Regions from separate parts of the Homo sapiens genome. Here region 1 is reported to be linked to region 2. The links are microRNA targets in miRTarBase. Many come from high-throughput screens and were not tested one by one. Region 2 holds a microRNA gene; the other region holds the end of a gene's coding sequence.
Evidence for each region. The annotated mature microRNA hsa-miR-491-3p reads CUUAUGCAAGAUUCCCUUCUAC and lies in region 2 at 2,173-2,194, opposite strand. An mRNA with a match to its seed (bases 2 to 7 or 8) in the 3' UTR can be bound and repressed. Matches are read on the target gene's strand: a 7mer-m8 pairs with bases 2 to 8, a 7mer-A1 pairs with bases 2 to 7 and ends in A, and an 8mer does both.

Region 1 (3,544 bases), not on the chromosome of region 2:
GAGCTGAGATTGCACCACTGCACTCCAGCCTGGCGACACAGCACGACTGTCTCAAAAAAAAAAAAAAAAAAAAAAAAAAAAGCCTGCAGAATAAATGAAAACAACAATAACAAAAACTGGGGGTCAGTCCCACACCACTATTCACTGCATCTCTGGAATTCAGCTTTTGGGATTTTTTTTCTATAAAATGAAGTTGATATTTTCCCACTTCCTAAACAGAATGAATGTTTTAAGGAACAAGGAAAGAGCATTTGCTTTGAATTTCTAATATTAAAAGGAACTATAAGAATAGAAATACAGTTAACCACTATTTTCTTAACTCTCAACGAACAGATATATTTCTGCTTTAAATGAGTGTTGTCTATCACGGCCAATCAGCTGCTAGCAAACTCTTACCATTTATCCAAACTCTGCCCTGAGGCACTTGCTGTCTTATCCAACCAACCATGTACAACTCTACCTCCACCCTTTAGCTATATACAAGGATTTCCTGTGTCAAAGAATAATGAGTGGGCCTGGCACGGTGGCTCACACCTGTAATCCCAGCACTATGGGAGGCCGAGGCTGGTGCATGACCTGAGGTCAGGAGTTCCAGACCAGCCTGACCAAGATGGTGAAACCCTGTCTCTGCTAAAAACACAAAATTAGCTGGGTATGGTGGTGCATGCCTGTAATCCCAAGCTACTTGGGAGGCTAAGGCAGGAGAATCGCTTGAACCCAGGCAGCAGAGATTGCAGTGAGCCGAGATCACGCCATTGCACTCCAGCCTGGGCAACAAGGGTGAAACTCCATCTTAAAAAAAAATTAAATTAAAAAAATAATAATAATGAGTAGGCAAACAGGGAAGAATATAGAGGAGAAAAATTATCTTAATAAGAACAATAGAATTTGAATTGAAGAAGGCTAGGAAATATATCTTAACTAGCCTAAAATACAAAAAATCAATGTTAATACTTGTGTTCTTCCAATGAGATGATATTTTTGAGGGCAGTACAAATTTCAATAGTTGCTTAAGTGAATTGGTAGAAAAAAGTTTAAGATTAGACAAAGTTCTGACCCCAAAGAACATACATTTGTTTTAATTACTCCCAATACAATTGATCTTATCAAGTTAGATGTGCTCTCAACACACATCAGTCTTAACCATAGGAGCCTTTACTCACTTGTTTAAGGCAGAAACTCAACTGCCTTACACAATATCCAGTAGCTTTCTTCATTCAATCCTCAAGAAAAACTTACCACTTTGTAATTTACCTAAACTGTTTACCTAGAGAAAACCTTTGTGTCCTTAGAATTAGCTGGATTACTCTTTGAGCTCCCTCCTGATTGGACGCTGATGCTGTTGAATGTGTCAGGAAACGTCCTCAGAAGTGGAGGGAGCTCAAGAGTTTTGTAAGTGGTTAAATTCTAAGGCTCACAAACCAAATTTTTTAGATGTATTCAAATGCCCGTGAAGCTTAGAATTTAACAAGAGGGCAAAAAAAGATGAGTCTGTTTTATTATCCTTGACTATGCGGGGTTTGAAATTTAAACATTTCAGAAACAATTTAGATCTATCCTTTGTGGTGAAGCTTAACCAGCTATTTCCCAGGTATATAGAGCCGGGGAATCTGTTATTTCTTTCATCAACTTTAATTTTCCTGGGGTTTTAGCTTTGTAAGTGTCACCATTATAAAAGAGAGTTAAGTTGATTTATAGAGGAAAAGCTAACATCATGGATCTTAAATGTAGTTATAGAACACTGAATGTATCCACTTTGCTGGTTTTATGGATCAGGAAAAAAGTGAAAACTGTGCCACTGAAAAATTACTTTTTCAGTGATTTTTAGAAAATTAAAATCAACCCAGGAAGCCCCAAAAATCCTGACGCTGAGGGTAGAAACATGATTTATATTTTATCATCATTCTCTTTCAACTCATGTAAACCTCTGGTCATAAAATCTCAAATTACTTTTTAAGGTGTCTAAGAAAACACTCTAGACCAAGTTAACAACCCTGGGGTTTTTAGTCAATGCAGTTCTAGCTCAGTCTCTGTCTCTGCATGCTTATTTATCTATGTGTGTATATCTTACTGTTTCTTAAATATTTTTTAATGTCTCTCTGACTCTTCTCCCTTTAACTGTTTTTTTTATTAAAAATGAGATATACCACATCTGTAATCCCAGCACTTTGGGAGGCCAAGGCGGGCAGATGACGAGGTCAGGAGATCGAGACCATCCTGGCTAACACGGTGAAACCCCGTCTCTACTAAAAAAATACAAAAAAATTAGCTGGGCGTGGTGGCGGGCGCCTGTAGTCCCAGCTGCTCAGGAGGCTGAGGCAGGAGAATGGCGTGAACCCGGGAGGCGGAGCTTGCAGTCAGCCGAGATCGCGCCACTGCGCCCCAGCCTGGGCGACACAGAGAGACTCTGTCTCAAAAAAAAAAAGAGGTATACTCAATGTTAAAAAGTAAAGAGAAGCCATGTAGGTAAGATGTTGTGGAGCTAGTAGTTAAAAAATAAAACTACTCATGATTTGGTATATCTTAAAATAAATTTTTATACATTATAACATATGTATAACATACAGTTATGCATTAAAGTAACTATTAATTTCCTATATGGAAGAAAATATTTAAAAATAATCCTGGTAGGAGTGAATTCATGTGAAATGTAGGCAGAAGTGATAGTTTAGAATATGCTTTAAAACAGATTTCATTTACTTTATATTCAATTTGATTTTACTGATTCTATAACTGGAAAAACTTAGAATTCTATAAATAACTATTTAAGGTTTCCATATTTCTACATTGATTTCTGATTTCTAAATTGTTATTTCGTTTGTGAAAAGTTCACAGTAGTAATTGAATGTTACATTTTAATAGCCACATATTAATATGTCTTATGAGAAGATCTAATATATACAACCTTAAAACCATGGATAAGCTGTGAAGAAAAAAAGTCAATGAAACTTGAGGAGGAAAATAATTTATGAATTAAAAATGCCACGCAAATTTTCTTTTTCAGAATTGGTATAAAAATTCTGAAAGAGAAGCTGCTACTCAACTAGGATAGTATCCACATTTTCTTGTGTGAGCTCTGACTCTAAGGCACAAGGCAAGTCTAAGTGTTCTTGTGACAAGCGAGAACTTTTCAGGGAGACATCAGACCAGCTGTCACAGTATGGCTGAAATCTCTGGGCCAATGCATTACCAAACCTTTGGCATCGGTTATATCTGTAAGATTTACCTTTGTGTGTATACATGTGTTCCAACAATTGGCTCTTTCGAGGGAATTTATGACCACAGATGGTACAGCTCATTTTTCTTTTCCTTGAAAAAGAAAAATTACAGTTTAATTCTACTGGCTCTGTGTCTTTGGAGATCAAAGATACTTGACTGATCTGCAAAGGCTCTGTGGTACCCCGGTTGGTGTGGTCTGGCTGCTGTTCATTCTCCTTAACAATGAAGGAGCTGAGCCTGCGGCATTCAAGGGCCTCGCTGTTTTCATTAAGGGGATGCACTTCACCAAGGTCATTACTTTCCAGAATGGAAGCAGGGACACCGA
Region 2 (3,000 bases):
ACCTGCTATTTGTGTAAGATGGAATTTTTCAGCTTTGACTGTCAATGTATGACCTTTCCAACTAAGAACTCACAGCTGGGGCTGAGCTGAAGCATGAGAAATCTACATCCAAACAGAGCCACTCTGTTCATTCTCTTCATTACCAAAATAATTCCCTCAGAGGTAACTCTATCAATCTTCTCTAAAGCATGCTTTCTCTCATTCCACCCATATTATTTTTCATTAATAGTCATAAGAATACTCCTCTCCAGCCCTTCCCTCCATGTCTCATTCCTAGAGGGTTTTAATAAATTTAAAACTTTTTTATTGCTATATATTAAAAAGGCAAACAAATAAACAAAAAAGGCAATGAAGTTCTCACAGTTCAAAAGCATTTCTACTGTGATCTGAACTATCAGGGAAACAAGACAGGTGCATATGTGATCCAGCTAGTAGCAATCTTATCTGAAGAGAATTAAAGCATAAAGTTAAACACAGACCTGATTTGTAGATTGGTGAATCTTTTCTGAAAAACCATTTTCCTTTAGGACTGCAGCAATAAGATGACCCACAGCCTTAAAAAGAAATAAAATTAATGAACACAGTCCCTTAGAAGTTCTTTCCAAATATCAATACTAGTTGATATGAGTATGCCAGGCAGTCAATTAGGATTAAGTAAAATTCCCATTAACTAAGTGTGTGCTATGTAGAAGGCATTGAATTAGGCACTCCACATGCACAATTTCTAATCTTCAGAATAGCCCTCAAGGTAGGCATATCTATCCCAGGTTACCAATAAGCAACTATAGTGCATAGAGGTTAAGAAAACTGCCAGATTTTTGGTTCAAATTGCTGTCAGTATCAGAAGATAACTTGAGATTGCTTACTCCATTAAAACATGAATGAGAAAGCCCATAGTTTTTAAAATCATCTTTGCACTGAAACGAAATCCACCATGCTTCATCACACTGTTAACGAATATGAAGAATATGTCTTAGAGCCAATAGGCTAGCAACAATCATTGCCATTCTGTGTACGGGTTGGAAACTACTTCACTATTGCTACAACTGTCCATCCTGCACTTGGGACCAAATTACGGTATAGCTGTGAATAACTGTCAGTCCTGCAAAGTCTCCAGAACAGCTCAAATAAAAACACAGCACCCACTCCTTCCTCATTTTTCTCTTTGTATTTCACACATTGGAACTGATTTAAGACCGTGGTGCTTGTGGTCTAGTTTTGTGATATAAGTCACTCATTTACATGAATATTAAGTTTAGTCCAACTTACTGTCTCTTATCTCCTAGTAAAAGGAATAGTAATAAGAACTGAGCACCCATGGATAGGTTGAGCTCCTGTTTTACAAAACATACCATATTTCATTGAATGGAACTGACCAGGAATTGCAAGTTGCACCATTATACTGTGTGCCACTAAGAAAGAAAAAAGGCTGCCAATTAGTCTATGATATACAGTGCTTCTTATAAGTCGGAATTTTGGTTTTATAGTCACACAAGAGTTCTTTTAGACTCGTGTAGAAAATCATGCCCAAGTTCACAAATGTGCAGGCAATACCAACTGTATCTCAACTGCTGCCATCAATTACTAGAGGCAATCCAATTTCAAAGATGTTAAAATCTGAAAAAAAACGTGTGTGAATCAAAGAAATATGGTGCTAACATCGAGCAGTGGTTACAGAAGAACAATAAGAAATATTTGCAAAGGACAGGACACAATCACAAGAACCTAATAAAACTAATATGAAACACAATAGGGACAAAGAAAAAGCTATAGTTCATATCTAGAAAAAGAAATAAAAGAAGAGAAGCTTAATTCCCCATTCCCCACCAGGTTGAATTTATCTAATATACTTTTCACTTCATCTTCTAACAAATCAGAGATACTAGCCTAAACTGATTTTTTAAAATACAAAACCCAAGGATAAATCAGCCTACATTGCTACTTAAGTGTTCTATAACAGAATTCAAATAGCCATCCTACACTAAACAATATAAATATATATATATATTTTTTTCACCTAATTTAACAGTAACACGTATGGGCATTTCTTGATTATCTATGTTAACAAAGAGACTCCAGGCACAGAAAAATAAAACTGTGAATAGTATCCTCCAAGCCTTCATCTTCTTCTTCATGGTAAGGACCTGCAGGATATGACTCCAACCCAGCCAGGTAGAAGGGAATCTTGCATAAGGAGTGTTCTACTCCTCATGGAAGGGTTCCCCACTACCCAGCTAAGTCAATTCCCACAGCAGACATCTCCGAAGTTAATTGTTGAAAGTATCCAAGGTGCTGTATGTTGTTAAGTCTTCAAGATGGCTTCTGCTGGTCTGTTAGCTTTACTCTCACAAGAAAAGACAATAAGCTATTATGATACCTTGATTAACCAGAATGTTTCTAGTTAGCTAAAGGCTACCCAGAAAGCCATCTTTGTTTTAACTATTTAATTATTGAAAAGCTCTTTAAAGTTATCACAATCTTCTATCTTAGTAGATATATCAAATTTTCTAATCCAGGATATTTTACTTATTAAATATCATTATTATAAAAATCTATATAAGGGGTAGGATATGTCTTCTTAAATATTAATCCCTCATACTCTTCAGACATATAACTGTTTACCTCTGTTCCCAATAATCATAGGCCAAAAAAAACCAAACAAACATATTCAGGGGCCTACTAGTTAATCAAGGTTTTATTATCTCTAGGAAGAAAAGTATGATATATAAACAGAAGCTGAGATTGATCAATTTCAAATATTTGCTTTCCATGTCAAATATATATTTTCAAATTAAATGTATATTTAAAGTTGTTTCACAAAATATAAATCTCTACATGTAGAATAAAATATTTAATATTAAATATATAAAGTTCAGTTAAAAATCCACAGAACAGGTTTATTTGTTACCATGAGCAAAAATAAACAAACAAAATTACCTGTGATTGGATAAGAGAATTTGGAAATTCAAACCTTTTCCTGATATCATCTGACATTTTTGC

Region 1: the mRNA of ZBTB25 is a reported target of hsa-miR-491-3p. Seed matches in the 3' UTR shown: 7mer-m8 at 2,568-2,574.

What each region holds. Positions count from the first base shown.
Region 1 is chr14:64,483,888-64,487,431 of GRCh38, forward strand. ZBTB25 (zinc finger and BTB domain containing 25) reads right to left here. Exons shown (of 3, transcript NM_006977.5): 3 at 1-3,544. The coding sequence ends at 3,036. Among named protein-coding and RNA genes, the nearest start is that of ZBTB25, 18 kb to the right of the region's middle.
Region 2 is chr9:20,715,348-20,718,347 of GRCh38, reverse strand. It overlaps MIR491 (microRNA 491), which reads right to left and starts at 2,243; the gene lies at 2,160-2,243. It overlaps FOCAD (focadhesin), which reads right to left. Exons shown (of 44, transcript NM_001375567.1): 2 at 2,938-3,000; 3 at 480-554. The coding sequence starts at 2,994.